Linked DNA regions of Homo sapiens: all the other regions are linked to region 2. Evidence: fine-mapped expression QTL. A gene starts in region 2. Each other region holds a variant in brackets. All regions are shown on one strand. Distances are from middle to middle. Region 1 overlaps PRKG1 (protein kinase cGMP-dependent 1). Region 2 holds the start of CSTF2T (cleavage stimulation factor subunit 2 tau variant). Region 3 overlaps PRKG1 (protein kinase cGMP-dependent 1).

Region 1 (2,770 bases), 220 kb after region 2:
AGATAACACAGCGAATTAAATGGGGAAGTATTTTACCCTATGCAATCCGACCCTGGAATCAGTACCTTTCAGTACTATACTGCATTGTAACTTGAAAGTTTGCGGAATTAATAAAAGAAAAACTTCTCCCACCCCTGACTCTTTCTTTTAAATAGGTTGTACTTCCTTCTGAAAATATCGACTTGACTTATTTTTTTTTTATTTTTTTTTTTGTGAGAGTAATTAGCTTTTTCTCAGTCAGCATTTTAAATTTGTTGTGACAGGGATCCATTTTATGCTTTCCACGAGACCCGAAACAAAGTGTTTCTAGACATTTTATTGCCAGAATATGCATGCTTTGCTCCATGCTGCTTGTAATTCATTAAAATGTATGTGCTCTGCAAATAGGAAACCAATCTGCAATAAATCAGCTTTCTAGAAAACATTCATGGAAAGTGTTCGAAATGGTTGCTCTGTAAGAATACACAAACCTGCTTGGTATTTGTGTGATTTGCTGTCATTTATGGGGTTTGTAAACAAATAGTGGATTTGTGTGAAACTGTAAATTAGTAGCCTGCCTTCAGCATGTGTGTGAGATCTGCTTACAAAATGCCATTTGATAGCATCTGAGCAGATCACGATGAGCTCCAAATTCCTTTTACAGGGACAAGTGATGCACACTGGTCTGAATTAGATAAATTGCCCTGACCCAAGATTTTCAACTATTTTTTTTTCTTAATCCGAGACATATTTGTAGCTGCCAGAAAACCTAGCTCACGGGCTTGTACACAGTTGGCATCTAAGGCATAAATCAATGAAGAATAGAAGCCCACTCGTGCTTACAAGTAACAGGCTAAAGATAAGAAAATCAGTTGGGCTTTCAGTTTTAGCCACAGAATACAAAGCTTGTTTGTGCTAGGGAGAGTTATCAAACAACGTGGTGCAGGAGATAATGTGGGTATTCAGTTCCAGGCCTCCCCAAGACCTTTGACTACAGAGTACTTCTCTGAATCCATAGCAAGGGCAACCTACTGCTTCCCTGCGGAAAAGGAATCATGCAGTTCCTTAGGCCAGGGGGTATAAGTCTGTTTCCTGGTAGATAAGGCTCTGAACCAGGGCAGGCAGTATTTTAGTAATGAGCATTCCTCAAATCAGTCAATGTTAATGAGGAACAAACCGTGACCAACCAAGGCTTTAGGGAGATGGCAGTTGTTGTGAGAAAGGATGTTCTGTTTGCCTCATGTTCTACGTGTTCCCTTAATTATTATGAGATTCTGTAAGTGAGCTCCTCTTCACTCTCTGGGAAGAGCTACCATT[C/G]TTTTTTATTACTTACACCTAAAAATTATTATTTTAATAAACGTAACATGATTTGTCTTGTAAATAGACCTGCTGTGCAATACCATTCTGCAGATTTTTTTTTTTGCTTTGACTTTGTGCAAATCAGTTTACATTACAGATGTTAATAATTGCTAGGCATGAGAGTGTTGTCTCTCCCTGACTCCTCTTTCCTCTTCCAAAAATGTTCTTTAAGGTCAAATTGAACAGCCCCCCACCTTTTTTTTTTAAAGTGGCTTACCCTGACTAATTCTACTCTATCCTGTTTGTTGTTTTCTTAATCCTTTTGTACAGTTTGTACTACAAAGCTGCATGCTTGATCCTATATTGCCTGGAACTTGTCTGTCTCCCAGTTTTCTGTAAGTACCTAAGCACAGGGTATGTCTTAACATATATCCCAAGTTTCCAGCACAGCAAGGATTTGTGGAAGAATTATGCCTGGTACTTATTAAATAAACAATAAATATTTGTTGAATCAGAAGTCTGAGTAGGCTTACAATAAATGCATACATGCTACCCGAGTGACCCAATGAATGAAACAAAATTGTTCTGTTTTGCATTTGGATGCTTTATTACCACAACTAGATTAAAAATGCATCAAGGACAGGGAGCATGCCTTCTGAAATACAAGAACTCATCATGAGGGCATGTAGAGTAGAGGTTGCTGGTAGGAGATTGTCAAGGATACACAATCAAGGTGGAAAACAAAGAAGGTGTGGGAAGCTAAGGACAGAAAGATCATGGGAAAGGAATAAGACTCATTTTTCTTCTATCATCCTTCTCCTTTCCCTATCCATCCCAGGGAGATATAACAAAGGCCAAACCTTTAGAAGGATATTTTGAAGAAGAAAGAAACTTTTGTAGAAGTTGTTGATTTTCCAGTATAAGGCCCCGGGGAGAGAGCTGAACTGTTGTCAGTTACTGTTCACTCCACAAGGATGTGAAGGCCTCTGATAGCCATCTTGCCGATTTCCCAGTTACAGTTTAGTGCTTGCCTATGGGAATCTCCTAATTAACAATCTTACAGTGTTCATGTCTTCTCTCTTTCTGTTTAGTTTCGTGTCTACAGAATAGAGATAGTGATCCTACATATATGGATATATGTATGCATATATGTGTGTGTTTATATATCTATCTTTATATCGCCATATAATTATAATGCCTGGGTTTGAATATTGGCAGCACCCTTTAATTGTGGTTCAATCATTCCTTAGCTATGTGATCTTGAGCAAGTTACTTAACTCCCCTAAGCTCCATTTGTTTTCTTCTGGAAAAGAAGGATAGTAATAATACCTACCTCATAGAACTGTTTCTAATTTTACTTTTAAACATAACTTTTTTTTCTCATGAGTAGACCTTATTATTTTTAGAGCAGTTTTAGGTTTACAGAAAAACTGAACAGAAAGTAGAGAATTCTCATATACTCCCTCTCTCCCACTCACAGTTTCCTCTATTT
Region 2 (2,770 bases):
TGGGCTCCACTTCTCCAGTGACTGAAAGCAAAGTCCCTCCACGTGGGTCATTTGGAGCATCTCCTAACAGTCCTCGAGGAGGCAGACCACCAGGAGTCACGGGTCCGCGAGGTATAGGAGCTCTAGGATCTGACATCTGCACTTGTCCCCGCTCTAAAGGCACTGGGCCAACCCCTGGCATTCCAAGTTGGGGCTGCATTGCTCCTCCAGGAGTTAAGGAACCAGGACCAGCTCCGGGAACTGCAGCTGGTATTGGCCCTGGAGCTGGAATTCCACCCTGGATAGGAGTCTGCATCAGAGGAGGAATGTCCTTCACAGGTCTTCTAGCCAAATGCTGAGGCTGAGGAGCTGGAGGATTCTGCTGGTTCAGCAGAACATTAGGTCCTGGGCAGAGCCCAGGGCCAGGGCCAGGGCCAGGGCCAGAGACAGACACAGACTGAGATTTGCCTGGGATCAGTGGTGTGACATGTATCTTCCGATGCAGAATTTTCAGAGCAATCTCTGGATCCATGATTCTCATCACTACTTGTGCCTGCAACAGTGCATAAGCCAGTTGTGGATTTTGAAGTAACATGTTTCGAGCTTCCTGGTGGCTGTTTTGGACACAGAGCTTCATCTGCTTCATCAGCTCAAACATCTGCTCCGGGGGGAGACTGGCTACTGCTCTGGTAATCGATTCAGGGGCATCTTCTGGATCGATGGGATCCCCATAGGGTGAGTCAATAATGGGCGCTGCAGGCCCAAGGCTCTTTAACTCCTCCTTATTCTTTTCACTGGCAGCATTGTCCACCCGAAGCGCTCTCCCACTGAACTCCCGCCCATTGAGGTTCCGCATGGCACTAAGCGCGGTCTCCTGGTCTTGGTATTCGCAGAAGCCATAGCCCTTGGGTTTTCCCGTCTCTCTATCGTATACCAGCCGGAAACTGACAACAGAACCAACCTCCGAGAAAATGTCCTTTAACTGCTCCTCAGTTGCCTCATATGGAATGTTCCCCACGAACACGGAACGCAGTGATCGATCCATTGCCGGGTCTCTCACCGCCAAACTCGACATGATTCCGGTTGTGCAGACAGCCGATAGCGGATTCTTCGAGGCGTCTGTCCTCTTGCGACCGACACTTCCGCTGAGCAACGGAAGCGGCTTTCAAGATCCGGGCAGAAACTTTACTAATTCGCTTGAATCGTTCCGCTTGCCTGTGGAACCTGCATCCCACTAACAACTTATCTAATGCTTTCAGTCCCTGATCCTTCATGGTTCTGTCAGCTTCTTATTACAGAGTCGCATGATTCCTTTCCCATTTCACGTTCCGCTGACTTTCTGTGGGGCCCCAACAGCCCCACTACGACACGCTTGGTACGAGATGACCACAGTAAAGATGGCCGCATAGACTTCACCGTAGTAACTGGGAGGGGACTCTTCCCTTGACGTCAAAGGCGGTTTTGCTTCCGTTCCGCTGGCGGGAAACCGCCAACCGAAAGCGGATTTAAGGCGGCGTGTTTTTCGTTCTGACAAAGTATTTTCATGTGGCCTTTTATTATAGTATAGTTAAGCTAGATTTAAAATCACATTCCAGACTGAGGGAAAAGCGTAGTCGTTTCAGCACATTTGAGATTTGCCCCTTAAACTAAAACAGTATTATATCTCCTTTTTAGAACAACGTTTTTGGAAATTAACTGACAAGAAATATAAACTGAAGCGTGTGCCGGCTGGGCCCTGCCCCCATTCTGTTGCTTCCTATAACCGCTGTTAATGGATGGGTGGCAGACCCTTCTAGGTTTTTCCTGAGCACACGGGCAGCCGTCGTGCTATTCCTAATATTACGGTTTTCTTCCTTAATAACAACCGATTTCAATATTAATTGGTGATTAAATAAATTAGTGATTAATTAGTTATTAGTATTTTATGGCTTCAGAGTATGGAATAAAGAAATTTACTTAACTATCCCTACGTTGATTGGTTCTGATTTTTATTATATCATGCAGTGAGTCCACCACTTCCATGAAGGGAGAAACAAATAGCGGGTGTTTGTCTTCTGCTGTTAGCTTTGCAGGTAGGAGTTAAAACATATTCAGTGTGGTGTTTCCCCGCCTGCAATTCGAAGCTAGAACTGAAGCTTGGAGAGGGCTAGGTAAATTCCCAAGGACAAGCAGCTGGAAAGAGGCCAAGTCAGGATTCTAACCCAGCTTGGTCTCGCATAGCTCCAATTCTACACTGCCTTACGTGTATTGAATATATGAAATGAAGCTAGTGTGATTGAAGAAATGAATTTTAAATCTCATTTTTTATTTAAATATAAAAACTAATGTTCAGTAAGCTATTGGAAAACTTTTTTAGTATTTAGAACAACTTGGATATAGAATCTACTTTTGCAATAATAAATTGTGTTCTAAATAAAAATCATTTTGAAGAACACTAAGACAAAAAATAAAAACAAATAAAAAGAAAGTATTTCCAGTCAAAATTTAACATACTGGTTGAGGTGTGCCATACATGTAACATACATGAAAGATTTTAATGATCAAATACAAAAAAAGTAAAAATAGCCCATCAATTTTATATTTTTTATAAGTCGAAATGTAATATTTTTATATATTTGAGTAAAAAATTATTTTGAAGTTAATGTTATTCATTTCATTTTACTTTTTTAAATGTGGCTATTAGAAAATTTAAAATTATATGGATAGATTGCATTATACTTCTGTGGACTGGACTGCTCCAAGCCTGTGCTTTAATTCCAAAACAGAGAATTATTTTATTCTGAAATATGCC
Region 3 (2,770 bases), 450 kb before region 2:
ACAATTCAACTTTCCCTAGAAAGGAGACAGAACATAAATGAAAAAAATGACCATTTATTAAAATAATCGCAAGTAGCAGCATATTATAAATTGTTATGTTTAACAAAGGACACTATACAATTTTTCATTCAACAGTACTGATTGAGCATCTACTATGTGTGAGGCACTGTTCCAGTGTTTCTGCAGCCCAGTGAACATGACAAACACTACTATCATTGTGAAGTGTGCATTCTAATAGCCGGGCATATTTGTCATCTTTGTATTCCAGGTGACACATTTGTAATTATGAACTCTAAAATGTCATATTGTGCTTAAGTGCCTTTAAAAGCGTAAGTAATATGTTAGATGATGCTTCATAGCTTAGAACATATCCACATGCATTTATGTAATTCTTATCATCTAGGGTACTTTGTTTATTAGAGGAGAAAACTGAGACCCTGGAAGTCTTACTGACATCATGAGCCTACAGTTACTGAATGGAAAAGTGAGGCTTGTCCCTCTCATTGCAGGGTTGCTGTGGTTTAACTCCCCAACCTACCCTAAACAGCCTTTTGGCAAAAGACCAATTTATTCAGTATACCTTGGGAGAAGGCAGATATCTAAATTTATCTTGCTTTTGGCAAGAAAATGAATATTTGGTGGCATAAAAATGATCACAGTTTGAGAAATACTAGGAAACATTCTATGAGAAACTAATGTTTAGCAACGTATCAATTTATGACATTTGAAAGAACTAAGAGTGAATGATTGCTTGAAACCTGAATTGGACTGCTGATCATAGAACAAGTTTAACCCATGGGAAAGTGGGAAGTATGTTTCAGAATGATGGAATAACCTGTCATGCAAAAGCAAAGACCTTTCATGGAGACTGGTGAATTCCCAGTCTCAGACTTTGATGGATGATTTTGTCAGCTGTTTTCTCTCTGAATGTGTTGTGTCTCCCAGCTTACTACTGAAGCAAGGAGGTTCACTGGAATTCACTTTTCCAAAAGCAGTCAGGGACACACCATCCTTTCTTTCTAAAGTTTGTGCCTTTTTCAGCTTAGAAAAGCACTTGCCTTTCTATCTCTGACAAGTGACTGTGCAAAACTCCATCTATGACAAAATGGAATTGTGCAAGAGTAATGAAGGGATGAGAAATGCATCTCCTTTGACAGGCCATGCAAACCCCTTTACTCACATTATTACAGTGATAGTTGTAAAAGGAGGAGGAAGTAGAAGAACTGGTATTGAGCTCCTAGTGTATGTGAAGCCCTCTCTATGCCTTCCAGCCCTACACCCTGTGTTGGTAGTGTTACTGTTATTCCTGTTTTATAGATAAGAAAGCTGAGGTGCTGGGAGAATACAGAACTAGAGCTGCGATGTTTTCCCCTCCTTTTTATGTTATTGTGTATTGCCTCCTGCCCAACTCTACAGACAGATTTTACTTCCTGAATGTTTATTGTGATATTATGTCTTAAATAAGGGATAGTTTTTCTGACTGCTTCACTGATACACATGAACCCATGTGTTCCACCTTTTATAATAG[G/A]TTTCCCATAATAACACATGGTAAACAACAAATTGCATTGCTTCCTTTTCCTATTTTAATATAGAGTCATGTCATGTTTTCCTTTAAGGCAGACCAGGCACCTGTTTCATAAATTGGCAAGGACATCTGCAAGTTGCGTCTTTAGTCTGACAGAATCAAGTCTTGGCAGGAAGTTGTAAATTTCTCTTTCTCTACAAGGTGTCAGTCCTCTTAAAAGCATTTTTTAGCCATGAACTCTTTGTGAGCATGGATTGACCTACAAGAGGAAATACCACTTGGAAGGATATGTGTAATTCATTTCCATTTGGAACAGCTTATTGTATCTGCCAGGCACTCAGCTGAATGTGCAGTGTTCCTTTATATCTGCATATTTTAAATAAAATTGTGATTAAGGTCATTAAAGACCCTCATATTAGAAGTGATCAAATGGTAATTGAATAAAGTTCAACTTATATGAAGAAATCTTTAGGAACACAGAAAAAAAATGGTCATTTTCTACTATATAATCTAAAAGGTATTTTTTACCCCATAAAGTTCTTAAGAACTCACTCCTTGGGAAGAGGTAACATACTAGCTAATTGGTATACTTCTGATATAGAATTCTGCTAAGAATCAACCTCTGGCTCTTAAATACTTGGAATAAAAGACATAACTCTACTCAAAATGTGTACGGAAGTTTTGTGGTTCACAAATGCAACAGCTTCTCCTAGATCTTGAGTTAATCAGCTACCGAATGCTGAAAGTTCTCTCCAGTCCTGTTATGTATTGGCCATAAACATGAGACATTGATATAATCATAATTTACTGCTGCTAGTAATAAATGAAGACTCAAGCAATAAGTAGCATATTACTTGCATATTTATGTTGCAGATAATATGCAGTATATTGCATACTATTGCATATATACGTTATTAGTCTAATGTAATTCATGTGTGTGTGTGTGCACATGCATGAGTGTCTTCTCTTTTGAGGAAAACTCCAGCTATGTCAGATCAGACCATATACTGGCACAATGAGCCGCACAGATGACAGAAGCAAAACAAAAACAAAAACAAAAAACAAAGTCTGGAATCTGAGTGCTCTATTGTATAGTATTTGTCTTCTAATAGACTAGGAATTGCAAGTCTTCAGGTGATAACACTTTTGTTATTTGGAATAAATTTCATTGATTTTTTAAATGTCTTTACTATAAATACATACCAACACAGAGATAAGTACTTATCAAACACTTGGTGCTTATTT

Evidence for each region. PIP is the estimated chance that this variant, and not a neighbour inherited with it, causes the effect.
Region 1: its variant is the best candidate, but not a certain one, in a credible set for the expression of CSTF2T in whole blood (TOPMed, PIP 0.68).
Region 3: its variant is the best candidate, but not a certain one, in a credible set for the expression of CSTF2T in whole blood (TOPMed, PIP 0.73).

Annotation. Positions count from the first base shown.
Region 1 is chr10:51,918,144-51,920,913 of GRCh38, forward strand. The region is part of intron 5 of PRKG1 (protein kinase cGMP-dependent 1); the gene reads left to right. Among named protein-coding and RNA genes, the nearest start is that of CSTF2T, 220 kb to the left of the region's middle. The variant C/G (reference allele first, on the strand shown) is at 1,297.
Region 2 is chr10:51,698,496-51,701,265 of GRCh38, forward strand. CSTF2T (cleavage stimulation factor subunit 2 tau variant) reads right to left here and starts at 1,100. Exons shown (of 1, transcript NM_015235.3): 1 at 1-1,100. The coding sequence starts at 1,054. The region is part of intron 3 of PRKG1 (protein kinase cGMP-dependent 1); the gene reads left to right. RefSeq lists enhancers at 788-1,367, 1,492-2,180 and a silencer at 1,934-2,228.
Region 3 is chr10:51,249,599-51,252,368 of GRCh38, forward strand. All of the region lies in intron 2 of PRKG1 (protein kinase cGMP-dependent 1), which reads left to right. Among named protein-coding and RNA genes, the nearest start is that of MIR605, 49 kb to the right of the region's middle. The variant G/A (reference allele first, on the strand shown) is at 1,529.